Linked DNA regions of Homo sapiens. The protein of the gene in region 1 purifies or fractionates together with the protein of each later gene. This does not show direct contact. Each region holds a gene or a part of one and is shown in the gene's direction. Other genes may lie near its edges.

Evidence for each region. The genes of interacting proteins can lie anywhere in the genome.
Region 2: the proteins of WARS1 (region 1) and MAPKAPK3 fractionate together in Homo sapiens (co-fractionation; one large-scale study listed by BioGRID). This does not show direct contact.
Region 3: the proteins of WARS1 (region 1) and GNPDA1 fractionate together in Homo sapiens (co-fractionation; one large-scale study listed by BioGRID). This does not show direct contact.
Region 4: the proteins of WARS1 (region 1) and SEPTIN9 fractionate together in Homo sapiens (co-fractionation; one large-scale study listed by BioGRID). This does not show direct contact.

Annotation. Positions count from the first base shown.
Region 1 is NC_000014.9:100,365,348-100,368,847, reverse strand, and holds part of WARS1 (tryptophan--tRNA ligase, cytoplasmic), read left to right. Parts: intron 1-1,804; exon of another isoform or gene 1,805-2,260; intron 2,261-3,500. UniProt on the Homo sapiens protein: Catalyzes the attachment of tryptophan to tRNA(Trp) in a two-step reaction: tryptophan is first activated by ATP to form Trp-AMP and then transferred to the acceptor end of the tRNA(Trp).
Region 2 is NC_000003.12:50,644,651-50,648,150, forward strand, and holds part of MAPKAPK3 (MAP kinase-activated protein kinase 3), read left to right. Parts: intron 1-1,059; coding exon 1,060-1,135; intron 1,136-1,489; coding exon 1,490-1,614; intron 1,615-2,089; coding exon 2,090-2,175; intron 2,176-2,472; coding exon 2,473-2,553; intron 2,554-3,243; coding exon 3,244-3,396; 3' UTR 3,397-3,500. UniProt on the Homo sapiens protein: Stress-activated serine/threonine-protein kinase involved in cytokines production, endocytosis, cell migration, chromatin remodeling and transcriptional regulation.
Region 3 is NC_000005.10:142,010,228-142,014,207, reverse strand, and holds the start of GNPDA1 (glucosamine-6-phosphate deaminase 1), read left to right. Parts: upstream 1-1,180; 5' UTR 1,181-1,213; exon of another isoform or gene 1,214-1,458; coding exon of another isoform or gene 1,459-1,539; intron 1,540-1,868; exon of another isoform or gene 1,869-1,920; intron 1,921-2,166; coding exon of another isoform or gene 2,167-2,172; coding exon 2,173-2,296; intron 2,297-3,980. UniProt on the Homo sapiens protein: Catalyzes the reversible conversion of alpha-D-glucosamine 6-phosphate (GlcN-6P) into beta-D-fructose 6-phosphate (Fru-6P) and ammonium ion, a regulatory reaction step in de novo uridine diphosphate-N-acetyl-alpha-D-glucosamine (UDP-GlcNAc) biosynthesis via hexosamine pathway.
Region 4 is NC_000017.11:77,490,999-77,494,498, forward strand, and holds part of SEPTIN9 (septin-9), read left to right. Parts: intron 1-1,622; coding exon 1,623-1,718; intron 1,719-1,981; coding exon 1,982-2,078; intron 2,079-3,500.

The DNA of each region.
Region 1 (3,500 bases):
CTGGGATTACAGGCATGCACCACCACACCCAGCTAATTTTGTATTTTTAGTAGAGATGGGGGTTTCACCACGTTGGTCAGGCTGGTCTCAAACCCCTGACCTCAGGTGATCTGTCCACCTTGGCCTCCCAAAGTGCTGGGATTACCAGCATGAGCCACCACGCCAGCCTTGGTTATAGTTTTAAATGTATTTTTCCTTTATCAACATTGGGATGCCTGTGGTCTAAAGAGTCAGGGGTTCTCAAAGCCTTTGTGAAATACAGTGGCCCTCCAGCCCACCTCTCCCTATTTCCTGCTCAATTCTTTTAGCCGATCTTTTGGTTATGTACTCCCCATATCTGTAAATATTCTGCTTATCATATTGTTCCTTGTTGATTTTCAAGTTGGGGTCTTTCAGGTGGAAATGAAGCATTCGTACCTTCACAACCACTTCCCGTCCAGGCAGTCTCCCCATCTGTATTGCAGTTGTAGTTAGGTCAGTATCTGTACACTGACATTATTATGACCATGGAAATAGACGTGGACAGCTGAACCATCACGGATAGAATGAGTACTCTAACTTTCTCGCCCAGCTTTTGTTTTCTCTGGAGTTAATATTTGTCTTAATATCTGTTTGCTTGACTTTTTTATGTCAATGATACTAATGATAATGTATCTCCAAGCCCTTTCCCTGTCCAGTGAATCTCCTTTCAACACACATCAACTAGTCTATCAAGTTCATCTTCTTGAGGCGATCTCTCCCAAAACCTTCTGCCTGCTTCCCTCTGAAGTGGGGGCTCTTGCTTCCTACACTGCCCATCTTGGCGTCTTTCTTCACTGTCGACCCAAGGGGTTCTTTCACCCCTGTCGATTGGGTGCCCCGTTTCCTGCTCCTGCATCTTTATTCCTCTTTGCTTTACTCTTTGGGCAGAGCAAATCTTCCAATTGTTTCTGAAAAAAATATTGCAAAGGAAATATTTCTAGGGGGATCTTGCCCATCTGAAAGCGTATTTATTTTACCTAAAACATGATTGATAGCCAGGCTGGGTGTAGGGTTCTAGCATGGAAGTGATTTCCCCTGGAAATGCTGAAGCCACTGCTCTATTGGCACCTAGCTTCTGGGCTTGCTGCAGAGAAGTCAGTTGCCATTCCTTTGTTTTTTCTTTTTGGAAGTTAGCAGGATCTTCTTTGTTCCCGTGTTCTGAAATTTCATGGGATGCAGGTTCAGTATGCCTTTCTTTTTTTTTTTTTTTTTTTTTTTGCCACCCCACCCCCGCCCCCCGAGATGGAATCTCACTCTTTCACCCAGGCTGGAGTGTGGTGGCACAATCTCGACTCACCGCAACCTCCGCCTCCTGGGTTCAAGCAGTTCTCCTGTCTTAGCCTCCCAAGTAGCTGGGATTACAGGCATCCGCCACCATACCAGGCTAATTTTTGTATTTTTAGTAGAGACGGGGTTTCACTATATTAGCCAGGCTGATCTCAAACTCCTGACCTCATGATCTGCCCACCTCGGCCTCCGAAAGTGCTGGGATTACAGGCGTGAGCCACCACACTCAGCCTGCCTTTTAGACTAGAAACTCATGGCCGTTAATTCTCAGAAATCATGATTTCTTTGATCTCTTCTGTTTTCTCTCTTCACAGACTTTTTTTTTTAATTCAGAGACTGTTTCTCTGATTTTCTAACCCTCCTATTGTTTTCCATTTCTGCTATCATTTTTAACTTCCAGGAGCATGTATGCTCCCTGAAGTTTCCTCACAGCACTCTGCCCTGACTCATAGGTACAGTACCACCCTTTTCTCTCTGAGATTTTTTTTTTTAATCTTATTTTACTGTATTAAATCTTACTAATATTCTGTAAGGGACAAACCAGACGAGTAGGCTACAGTGAAGAAATCTTATTTTGGAGAGTTAAGAAACCACTATGATACTTCCAGGTATTATCTTCAGTGATGCTTCTTATCTTTATTCAGGGACTCCAGGTAATATTCAGCTCCTACAGCTACCACAAATGCAGCAAATCCCCATTTGAATCCTTTAAACAATACATCAAAAAAGGAAACACTCTTTGCAAAGCCACCCATGTATCTTCAAGCTTCATTGTGGCCCCACGGATCCCTTAGCCCTTTTTCAGCCAGCTTCTTCTGGATAGTTTCTAATGGTGTCCCTTCTGTCTTCCGTTGTCTGTAATCTAGAAGTTCCATTTTACGATGTCCATGCTCATGTCCATGTCCATGGGCCATGTCTGACAGCAATCTGACCTCTCAGGACACTCAACTCTCTCTCTCTGAGATCTTAATGGTAGTTTTCCATATGTCCTCTACATCCTTTATAACCTCAGTTTCTTCCATCTTAATTTGTTTTCTACCTGCCTTTCATATTAGAGGCAATTCTCAACTGTTTGGTGTTTCTTGGCTATTTGCTGGTGTTTTGGGGGGTGCACTGAAAGCTGCTGGATGCACTCTTCATTGGGGAAGAGCTTATCAACATAGGTTCCACTTCCTGGAGAGTGACCAGGCTGCTCCCCTTTTGTTGGGGAATCTTTCGTGTCAAGGTCTTTAGATCTTTTCTTTAAAGTTAAGTGAGATTCCCCAGAGAAAGCTCCCCCAGTCCACTGTTCAGAGGGGGTGAGTCCCGCTGCCAGAGTTCTACGGCTGAGTGGGAGAGAAGGGCTGGGCTGTGGGATCCTTCCCCGAAGCTCCCTATTCTCTGTGTGCTGCCAGTGCCCCAACTGTGCAGACTGCCCCCAGTCTAGGCACCTGTAACTCTGTCCTCTCTTGACATGAAACCTTGGAATGGAGGGGAAACTGTGACACTCCCTTGGCCGAGGGGAGAGGGATTCTCAATAACTGCTTCTTGAAGAGACTTCAACCAGCGCTCCTGTTTTCATAACCCGCTTTCCTGCCCCCACTCCTGTAAGTGCGCAAGGTCACTAAGGCCCGAACCTTTGGGTGATTCCGTAACAGTGTACACTCGGTCACCTTCCAGTATTTCCATGATGTCTTAGCATTTGTTTTTCTCTCATGCTGTTAGGCACTGATCATTCATCAGCTTTCTGGCTTCTGAAACCTTGTTGCTGTCATCCTCTTCTTGTTTCCTTTGTCCTTGTGGGATTATGCTTTAAAAAAAAAAAAAAAAAAGAAGATCTCTGCTTTTGTTGTAGTAGATTTCAGAAATATCATCATCAATACGCATCTTTAACTAGAACATAAGCATTTCATTTCCTTCTGGGGTGACTCCACTCCGGCTTCTCCATGACTTCCATCACTTTTTTTTTTTTTTTTTTTTTGAGGCTGAGTCTCACTCTGTCGCCCAGGCTGGAGTGCACTGGCACAGTCTTGGCTCACTACAACCTCTGCCTCCTGAGTTCGAGCGATTCTCCTGCCCTGGCCTCGTAAGTAGCTGGGACTGCAGGCGCCCGCCACCACACCCGGCTAATTTTTGTATTTTTAGTAGAGAGGGGGTCTTGCCATGTTGGCCAGGCTAATCTTGAACTCCTGATCTCAGGTGATCCGCCCGCC
Region 2 (3,500 bases), on another chromosome or scaffold:
ATTCTGTCTGCATGGAGGCGGGTGACGTGGGGGGCCGGAGGCTGCAAAAATATTCTCCCAAACTTCAGCTTCTGCTTTTGAAAATAGATCCAGGAAAATTCTGGCTGTGGCCTGTGAGCTGAATGACATCACAGCAGCTCTAAATATATATGTGATAAAAGGCTGCCATCAGCTTGGGACGGAGCCCAACCGCGGTTGTTTTTCTCTAGTTTTTGTCTTCCTGGGATTCATATTCAGAAAGTGGGCATGCATTTCCTCCTAACTTGGAGGGACAAAGGGTACCAGTCACCTGCCTTGTGGGAGACGGTCACTAAAGCCAGGGCTTGGAGGTGTGCACATACTCATGCTTCCTGGAAAAGTTCACTGCCCTTCTGCAAGTGGGCAACCCCCGGATCTGAAAATGTTCCTTGCCAAAACTGCCCCCTAACCTGAGAGTGGGGTGATGACAGAGGGCTTTTCTCCCTCAGAAGAGGTCTTCCTGGAGGGCTGCTGAAGGGGTGGGAAGTTCCCTGAGACAGTTGAAATGGCACTCTGTTAACTAGGATGTGTTTTGCACTAAGTATTTTAACTTAGAAATCTTCTAGCCTACCCACCTCATTGCACAGGGAAGACAAAGGCTCCATGGATTGGTAGCCAAGCTGATGATGGAATGCAGAGCCCTGTCCCTGGTTCTTCCTTGCCTGTGACCTAGGCTATGCATTCAGGGAGGCAAGGGACACAGGACAGCTGGCAGGCCAAGACCCTCTCACCTACGGTAGCTTCCCACCAAGCCCCAGACTGGCCTTCTCTTCTCTTCTTTCACCAAGGTTGAGACTGGTAGAGGGGCTCAGGCCCAAGGGAGCTAGGGGTATGTCTGAAAGTGGTTGATTTTTTTCCAGGAGCTTTCTCCTCCCCCAACTTCACACACATGCTGCCTTTCCAAAAGGTGCCAGACGCCAGTCTGCTCTGCCCTACCTCCCAGCCCAGGTACCTGCTCCCCACCTTGCCCAGGCTTTAGGCTCCTGCCTGGGCTCCAAGACCCTTGGGTCTGAGAGCCCTGCTGTCCCTCTGCCCTGGCAGCCCCTGAGGTCCTGGGTCCAGAGAAGTATGACAAGTCATGTGACATGTGGTCCCTGGGTGTCATCATGTACATCCTGTGAGTACCTTCCCCACCCCCTGCCTCCATCTCCTGCCCTTACCCCCACTGTGAGCCCTCAGGACCACTTCTGTCCCCCCACCCCCATGTCCTTGGTGAGGAGCTTGTGTGTGTCACTCCTCATGCAGGCTGCCCTTCCCTTTTGGTCATGGGACACCACTCCTTCAGGTGCCTGAGGGTCTCCCCATGCCAAGGGCTGATGGCATTCCTGGGATGTGCCTGGGAGTCCGGAGGGCTGGTATTATTGCTATGGTGTCTGGTTGTCTGTCTCCCCAGTCAGGGGCTTTTGAGGGGAAATGGGTCCACCCTGGCACTGCTCCCACCCTATGCCAAATGACTTACCCCTTCCCCCAGCCTTTGTGGCTTCCCACCCTTCTACTCCAACACGGGCCAGGCCATCTCCCCGGGGATGAAGAGGAGGATTCGCCTGGGCCAGTACGGCTTCCCCAATCCTGAGTGGTCAGAAGTCTCTGAGGATGGTGAGTGAACCTCTCTGTCCCAGCCTGACTCACCTGGCCCCTGCGGCTTTCATTCTGGGAAACATCACTTTGGTGTCAAACTGACCTGTGTTCAAATCTTGGCTCCCCCTCTTTCCAGCTATGGGACCCTAGGCAAGTCCCCTAACCTTCTTGAGCCTCAGTTTCTACATCTGCCAAACAGGCTCAAAACTTGCCTCCTCAAAACTCCCTCTAACTCCTATTCCTCATTCATATTTTCCCCTTTGAGGACCACAAACAAGGCTGCCCTGTATGAGTTATCTACTGCTGCTTAACCAATTATCCTGAACACTTAGTGTTTCAAAACAAGAAATAGTTGTTAGCTCACTCTTTCTGTGGGTTGGGAATTTGGGAGCACATGCAGCCCCTGCCCCAGCAGAGCTTGTGGTCTGTGGGGAAGGGTGGAGGGGCTGGCTCTGCAATCTCATCTCTCCCCTCTCTTCCCTGGCCCCCCTAGCCAAGCAGCTGATCCGCCTCCTGTTGAAGACAGACCCCACAGAGAGGCTGACCATCACTCAGTTCATGAACCACCCCTGGATCAACGTGAGCCCCTCCTCCTCCCATGGCAGGCAGGGTGTCCAACAGGAGTGGGGCTGCCGGGCAGGAGGGTGGTGGCTCTGCTTTGAGGCCCCAGTGCAGGGCTGGAATGGGCCCATGCACACAGGTAGATACTAGGGCCTCACCTACAACCTGGCTTTGTCACTGCCCTAGTGAGGCTCCTTCCCCACCCTGAGCCTTGGTTTTTCCATCTGAGTCTGGGAGAAGAGGATGGAGTAGGGGGAACCAGTGCTGTCCCAGGTGCCTCCAGTTTCTAATCCACGGGCGTGGGGCTCCTTCCAGCAATCGATGGTAGTGCCACAGACCCCACTCCACACGGCCCGAGTGCTGCAGGAGGACAAAGACCACTGGGACGAAGTCAAGGTGGGTGGGCTCTGCCTCAGTCTCAATACAGGTGCCAGGATTTGGGCAAAAGGGACTTCAGGGGGGTGGCTACCCAGGGTCTGGGGTCTTTGGCCCCTTTCTATACCTGGAGCACAGGGTGTCAGTGACTGTCGCAGTGGTCCAACCATGGCACTCCAAGGATTGGGCCTCACTACGCCATTCAGTGTGGTGCTCCTGGCTCACTTCCTCAATGAAACGGGGCTTTGGTACCAAGCTTGGATGATGACCTCTCTTATAACCAACAACATTTGGGAGGGTGGTCAGCCTGGTTTAGACCCAGCAGAGGCCACGTTTGAACATATGGAGTAGCAGCTCCAGTGGCACAATCTCCAGGCCCCAGTGCGCTGGTTGCCCAGCGAGATGGCATTCTCTGCAGGTCTTGTGGTTCTGTGGTGGAACTGGTTTAGTTCACTATCCCACTTACCCTTGGTGTGGTCCGAGGGAGTAACTCTCCTTTTGTGCCTTAGTGAATAAGCTCAGTGTCTACCACAGAGGACGGTAGTGAGGATCATGTGATGCAAAGGGCTTGGCCCAGTGCTGGGCACACAGTGGGCACAGAGGCAGCACAGGCTGTCACTGACATTAAGGGGCTGCCCAGGCAGGGGGGTGATGGTTCCTAAGGTCAGTACATCCTGACCTCTTAGTGCCCACCATCCTGTCTGTCCCCAGGAGGAGATGACCAGTGCCTTGGCCACTATGCGGGTAGACTACGACCAGGTGAAGATCAAGGACCTGAAGACCTCTAACAACCGGCTCCTCAACAAGAGGAGAAAAAAGCAGGCAGGCAGCTCCTCTGCCTCACAGGGCTGCAACAACCAGTAGCTCATGGGGCCTTGGAGGAGCCTGGCCTCTCAGCCTGCATAACAGACTGAAATGTGCTCAGGCCCTGGCCAGGAGGGCCCAGGGTCATTCTTTTAACAAAAGGA
Region 3 (3,980 bases), on another chromosome or scaffold:
TATCACAAGTCTCTGTACGCCTTTGATCCCCAGTTTCCACATCAATAAAATGGCGGTAATCATATCTGACGATTGGGCGGGATTCTATGAAATAATGCGCACAAAGCTCTGGCAAAACCCTATGTAATGGAAGATGTTACTGATGACCAGCACTCAAGTCCTTCCTCCAGCCTCCGCATGGAAAGTTCCCAAGTGTCCCTAGAAGTCTGGAACACTCTAATGTTGACTGGAAAGAATAAGATGGATCTCTTTTTCTGATATGGAAGCGTCCCAAATCCAGTCATACCAGCTGGGAGGCAGTGCCCGCTAGCGGTAAAAAGCATGGATTTTGGATTTGGACAGATCCCCCTGAATTGAAGGCACAAGGGAAACCACTTGTGCCTCTGGCCAAGTTAATTTTTCTCTCCAAGCGTCAGTTTCTCCACCTGTTAAAAAGTAACGGCAAACCTACCTCACTGGAGCTTAATAAGGATTAAGTGAAATAATGCAGGTCAAATATCCGAGCCTTGATATATATAAGCCTCATGTGTATGTGTTCCCATTTATGTAAAATAACAGTGTAAGCATATTCAAAGAAAGCAATTCAGAATGTACTCTTAAACTAAGCAATGGTTATCTTGGTGTGGGGAGTTGGGGAAACCAGGGGCCTGCCTTTTTCTCTATTATATAATGCTGCAAAGTTTGATCTTTAAAAAAGGACATTAAAAAGCCCAATTGTACTTTAAACAACACAAGTTTTAATACTTGGGTAAATAAATGGCATCTAAACAAAGAAAGAAACTGAAGGCAGAGCCAGGCCCAACCCTAGGAGACTGAGGAAGCGATTCTGCTTTGCCTGCCCCCAGCTCAACCCCTGCACTAAAACCCCCCGGCCCCAGCCCCAAGGTCCAGGGGGTTGTATTCCTGGGGGCGACCCGGCGCCCCTCAAGTCTCCCTCCTCTTGCACACACACACACACAAACCAGACTCGAATCCCCGCCTCCCAAGGGAAAGTGTTTTTTAAGGTCTGTTCCAGGGCCTGCCGGGGCCAGGGACCGAGGTGGGACTGAGTGGCCGGAACTCCTCCACCTGGGAGAGTCGGTCCGGGTAGCTGCGGCCAAGCTGAGTCAGCCCGGCGGGCGGCGCACGCGGCGCCGCGTGACCCGCAGCCACGTGACCCGCGCGGGGCCGGGCCGCCGGCGCAGTCGCTGCAGCCGCCGCGGGAGGCGTCCGTGTAAGTGGGTAGCAGGGCTGGCGGGGACCTTCCTCGCGGGCCGGAGCGCGGAGCGCTGCCCCAGCCCTACGGCACTCGGGGTCGGGACCCCGGGGAGCCGCCCTCACACATTTTCCAGGAGGGATCGGAGGGGCGATGGGGTGGTAATGGGGGTGGGGGACACGCTGTACCCCACCGACGACCGCGCGGGCCACCTTCGCCTCTTTCCTTCACACTCCCACTAACCGCAGTGCTGGGGGAACAAAATGTCCTCCTTCTGGAGCGATTACCTTTTCCCTTTTGTGCTTTGGGGGAAACTGAAGACCCAGAGGGGTTCGCAAAGCAAGGTGGGCCAGTAGGAAGACCCCTCCGCTAGTCCAGAGAGAGCACACAGCTCCCCAGGCAGAGCTCATTGCCCCACCTGCTCTAGTGGCCCAGCATGATCCCATGACCTCTCTACTTCTGGAGGAAGAGTCTTGGGGTAGACGGCGGGGAGGGGGTAGGGTATCCCGTTCCGGTAGGGGCAGGGATGAGGGAGGCGGGGCTGAGCCGAGCATCTATCTGGATGGTAACAGCCAACGTAGAAAATACTAAGTTGTTTACATGCATTCTCTCATTTCATATTACCCGTCGTGAAGTCTGTGAAGTAGGTACTATTGTCCCAATTTTTACATAGGAGGAAACGGCTCAGAGAGAACTTAGGTCCTTTGACCGAGGTCCTGCAGGTGGTAAGTGAAGGAGCTGAGATTAGAACCCAGATCTGCCCCCAGTGGCGCCTCCTCGTGGTCTGTGGGTGGTGGAGACGACTGGCCTAGCCTCTTAGCTCCTCTGTGAATAGAAAGGCCTTTTTCCTGGCTCAGACAGCTTGGGAAGGGGATTGTTGCTGGGTAAGAGAAGCTTCTCCCACCACCTCCATCTCTTTCTCTGCCCCTTACCATTGATTCCTTTCTGTCATCCCCTCTCCCCCACTGCAGGACAAGATGAAGCTCATCATCCTGGAGCACTATTCTCAGGCGAGCGAGTGGGCGGCTAAATACATCAGGAACCGCATCATCCAGTTTAACCCAGGGCCAGAGAAGTACTTCACCCTGGGGCTCCCCACTGGTGCGTTCTTGGATGGAGAGGGTGCCGTGGATAAGGGTGGAGAGAGTAGGCAACAGGGGCCAGGTACACCGGCTCACTCAGCCAAGGGACTTCACGGGGGCTCTGGGGTACTGGTGCTGAGAGAGCACCTTCCTGCCCCTTCCACATACAAAGGACCCAGCTTCCCTTATGGGTTGGTTTAGTCGCTGCCTGTCCCTGCAGAATCCTGGAGCAGAAGGGATCTTGGTTGGCAGGAAGAATTTGATTTTTAGGCTACATCCTAAGTCAGCCCTGTCCACCAGGGTTTCTTAACAGAATTAAGTCCTGATACCCTAAGGCATTCATTTTATGTAATGAATTAATTTCTCTTCTCTGCATCTAGAGGGGTACCAGCTAAGTACCATCCTTGGGAGAATTGAAAAGATAGTCACTTAGGTAATTTTCTGTAAGGCTTAATTAAACACAGGACCTAAATAAAAAACAGTTCTAATTTCTTTTGGAAAAAATCAAAATGTTGCTTTTTCAGAAAGATATTTTGACCCCAGCTCCTCAAGACAAATGTCCTGATTATTTCTTTCAGAGATGGATGGGTTTGCCCTAGTGGCCCTACCTGACCCATCCATTAGCGTGTCTATGTGTGTGTGTGTGTGTTGGAGGGGTCTTCAAACTTGTTCTTTTTCCTTTTTTTTTTTTTTTTTGGTCTTCCTTGCAGTCCAGACTTTTTCTGTAAATGGCCAGTAGTAAATATGTTAGACTTCACTAGCCATATAGTCTCTGTTGCAACAACTTAACCCTTCTGTTGTTTGAAAGCAGCTATAATTAGCCTGGCATGGTGGCGCTCACCTGTAGTCCCAGCTTCTTGGGAGGCTGAGGTAGGTGGATTGCTTGAGCCAGTAGATTGAGGCTGCAGTGAGCCATGATTGTGTCACTGTACTCCAGTCTGGGTGACAGTGAGACCCTGTCTCAAAAAAAGAAAAGACAATATATAAGTGAATGAGTATGGTTGTATGCCAATAAAACTGTATGGACACTGAAGTTTGAACTTATATAATTTTCACATGTCACAAAATATTATTCTTCTTTAATTAAAAAAAAAACTATTTAAAAATGTAAAAACCAGGCCAGGCATGGTGGCTCATATCTGTAATTTCAGCACTTTGGGAGGCTGAGGTAGGCAGATTGCTGGAGCCCAGGAGTTTGAGATTAGCCTGGGCAACATGGCAAAACCCCATCTCTACAAAAAATAGAAAAATTAGCTAGGCATGGTGGCACATGCCTGTAGTCCCAGCTACTGAGGAGGCTACGGTGTGAGGTGTGAGTATTGCTTGGGCCAGGAGGTCGAGGCAGTGAACCATGATTGTGCAATTGCACTCCAGCCTAGGTGACAGAGCAAGATTCTGTCTCAAAAAAAAAAAAAAAAAGAAAGAAAAGAAAACCATTCTTAACTCATAAGCTGTATAAAAACAGGCCACAGGGCCGGGTGTGGTGGCTCACGCCTGTAATCCCAGCACTTTGGGAGGCTGAGGTGGGTCGATCATTTGAAGTCAGGAATTTGAGACCAGCCTGGCCAACATGGTGAAACCCTGCCTCTACTAAAAATATAAAAATTAGCTGGGCATGGTGGCGGGCACCTATAATCCCAGCTACTCAGGAGGCTGAGGCAGGAGAATCAATTGAACCCAGCAGATAGAGGTTACAGTGAGCT
Region 4 (3,500 bases), on another chromosome or scaffold:
CCTGGTGGTCCCTGGCCCAGGTGGCTGCTGGGGGCCGTCCCTGAGATGGCCTCTCCAGCTCCCCCATATCTCAAAAGCAGCTTTGTGGGAGTGCCAATTCTCCAGCAGAGTCTCTGAGGGGGGTTTTGGAGAAGACCTGGACCAGGCAGATGGTGAATCTCTCTTCCAGGGAGTGAGGCCGAGCAGGGGCCGTGCGACATGGCCCACCTTGTTTTATGCCCCCCCTTTTTTTTTTTGAGAAAGGGTCTGGCTCAGTTGCCAAGGTTGCAATGTAGTGGCACAATCATGGCTCACTGCAGCCTCCACCTCCCAGGCTCAGTCCCCGAGTAGCTGGAATTACAGACGCACACCACCATGTCTGGCTAATTTTTGTATTTTTAGTAGAGACGAGGTTTTGCCATGTTGCCCAGGCTGGTCTCTAACCCTTGGGCTCAAGGGATCCTCCTGCCTCAGCCTCCCAAAGTGCTGGGGTTACAGGCATGAGCCACCTCACCTCGCCCTGCCTGGTTTTTATTAGATGGAAGAGAAGCTGGGCCAGGTGTGGTGGCTCACGCCTGTAATCCCAGCACTTTGGGAGGCCGAGGCGGGCAGATCACTTGAGGTCAGGAGTTTGAGGCCAACATGATGAAACCCCATCTCTACTAAAAATACAAAAATATTAGTCGGGCATGGTGGCGGGCGCCTGTAGTCCCAGCTACTTGGGAGGCTGAGGCAGGAGAATCTCTTGAACCCGGGAGGCGGAGGCTTCAGTGAGCCGAGATTGAGCCACTGCACTCCAGCCTGGGTGACAGAGCGAGACTCCATCTCAAAAAAAAAAAAAAAAAAAAAAGTTTCAGGAGGGATGGTCTCTGCCACCTTCTTCTCCGCCACCGTCTGAGGCCCCTGCTGTGGGATAGGGAGGGGCATCCAAGCAAGAGGGCAGCCCTGGGCTCTTCCTCCTGACAGGGCAGCACATCAGAGCCACATGGGGTGCCTTTCAAAATGAAACCGAGGTGCCTGGGCTGCGGCACCACATCTGCCTCGGTGGGTGTGGGTGGGGCCTGTAACCTACTCCGTCCTGGGGCCAGGTGTCAGGGACCTTCCCAGCATGTGCAGGGGAAGACAGTCCACACAAAGTGGGTGTGTCTGCCGGAGGCTACACACGGGCTGTGGTCTGTGCCTGGGCAGGCGAGCAGCCGCTCACTGGGATGTTTCTGTTGCACGTACCCATGTCGGGCTGCTGGCAGGGAGCTGAGAGGTTACTGCAGGCGGGGCCCCTGCTGGAACTGGGGACTGTGACGAGGGTTTTTTAGGAAGGGTTTCAGGAGGGGAGGTCTCGGTAACCCTGAGTACTTTCTTGGGGCTGTGATGAGCAGGAGAAGAGAGGTGGGAGGTGCTCAGGACGATGACCTTAAGCCCCTGGGGAGTTGCAGCGTCGCTCAGGACAGCAGGTGCACCTGCAGCTGCCCCTCTTCCCTCCAGGAGGCACAGGAGTTGGAGGTGATTGGTGTCACAGCCCCCCAGAGCCTGCCCTTGAACCCGAGCCTGGGGCAGCACACAGTGTGGAGGTCATGTGGCAAACACCAGTGGGTGGGTAGAGCTTGCCACAGGGATGGGCCCATCTCTCTCCCTCCTTATCCCAGATCACCGCAGACCTGCTGTCCAACGGCATCGACGTGTACCCCCAGAAGGAATTTGATGAGGACTCGGAGGACCGGCTGGTGAACGAGAAGTTCCGGGTGAGTGGATCCACTAGGATGTTGTTCCCAGGGGACCCCCAGTTCCTGCTGAAGGGTGGGTTGGGGGTTTGGAGGACCTTAAGCCATGAAATTATATTCTTGGGGCCAGAGGGCACTGAGCCCAGGTGTCTGTACCCAGTGCTGTCAGGCTGAGGCTCTCGTTTTTGGGGGACCCCAGGCTCAGGGCAGCTCCTCCCGGGGGCCCAGGGGAGGGAATTGCCTTCCCGCACATGTGTAACCAATACCGTCTGCCCGTTCCCCAGGAGATGATCCCATTTGCTGTGGTGGGCAGTGACCACGAGTACCAGGTCAACGGCAAGAGGATCCTTGGGAGGAAGACCAAGTGGGGTACCATCGAAGGTACTCGCCGCAGGCGCCGGGGCTCCAGACAGATGGGAAGACAGTCTCTTCTGCTGACCCAGAGCCTGTGGGCCACGCCTGAGCCAGGGACTCGTGGAACCTCATCCACTGCCTTGCCCCACCCAGAGGGAGGGGTCTCCTTGTCCCCATTCAACCCTTGGGAAAGTGAGAGGGCAAGTGGCCTGTGCAGATGCCTCCACCCCAGACCTCCCCCCGGGCAGGGAAAGATTCAGGGAGACAGGAGCTGGGATGGGGGCCGCCAAGTTCTGGATCCTGGTGCAGGCTCTTTCATAGGCACCTGTGTGGCCCTGGACAAATCGCCCAACCTCTCTGGGCCTAGAAAAGGGGTGGGCTGTAGCTCTGTGAGCCAGATGGACCCTCGGCCCCTTACCCTGCTGAAGTTCCTGGGACCCTCACACCTTAGTCTCTTGAGTGGCTGTTGTAACCAATTAGCACAAACGAGGGGACTTAAAACAACACAAACGTATTTTCACAGTTCCAGAGGCCAGAGGTCCGAAATCAGGGGCTGTTTCCTTCTGAGGCCCTGAGGACCAGCCTCATCCATGCCTTCCTCCTTCTGGTGGCGCCTGGCATTCCTAGTTGTATTGTAAAGGCATCACATGCTCTAATCTCTGCCCCATTGTCACAGGGCCTTCTTCCCTGTGTCTCTGTCCCGTCCCTCCTCTTCCTTTTTTTTTTTTTTTTTTTTTGTTTGAGACGGAGTCTCGTTCTGTCACCCAGGCTGGAGTGCAGTGTTGCAATCTCAGCTCACTGCAACCTCTGCCTCCTGGGTTCAAGTAATTCTCCTGCCTCAGCCTCCCGAGTATCTGGGATTACAGTCACGTACCACCCACCTGACTTAATTTTTGTATTTTTAGTAGAGACAGGATTTCGCCATGTTGGCCAGGCTGGTCTTAAACTCCTGACCTCAGGTGATCTGCCCACCTTGCTTGGCCTCCCAAAGTGCTGGGATTACAGGAATGAGCCACCGAGCCTGCCCTCTTTCCTTCTTGTCTTTGGACAAGGATGCCTGTCTTTGGACTTAGGGCCTACCCTAAGTGGATGATCCCATTTGGAGATCCTTAATGAATCTATAAAGAAAGACGTTTTCCAAGTAAGGTCACAATCATGGGTTCCAAGGCCTGGACCTTGACCATGTCTTTGAATGGATGGGAGCCCCTGGGGGGCCACAGTTCAACCCACTCCTGGCGGTGACACCCCGGGAGGGATGGGCCCGAACGTTTCCTTCCCCTTCCTCTCTCTGTCCCTTCATTTCTCATTAGAATGGAAGAGGGGAAGGTGCAGAGGGAAATGCAGCAGGAAAAGCCACTTTGTTCTGGGAGAGCACTTGGCTGAAAGGCCCAGTAGAGCAGGAAGCACAAGTCTCTTAATCTTCCAGGGCCTCAGTTTTCATCATCCACA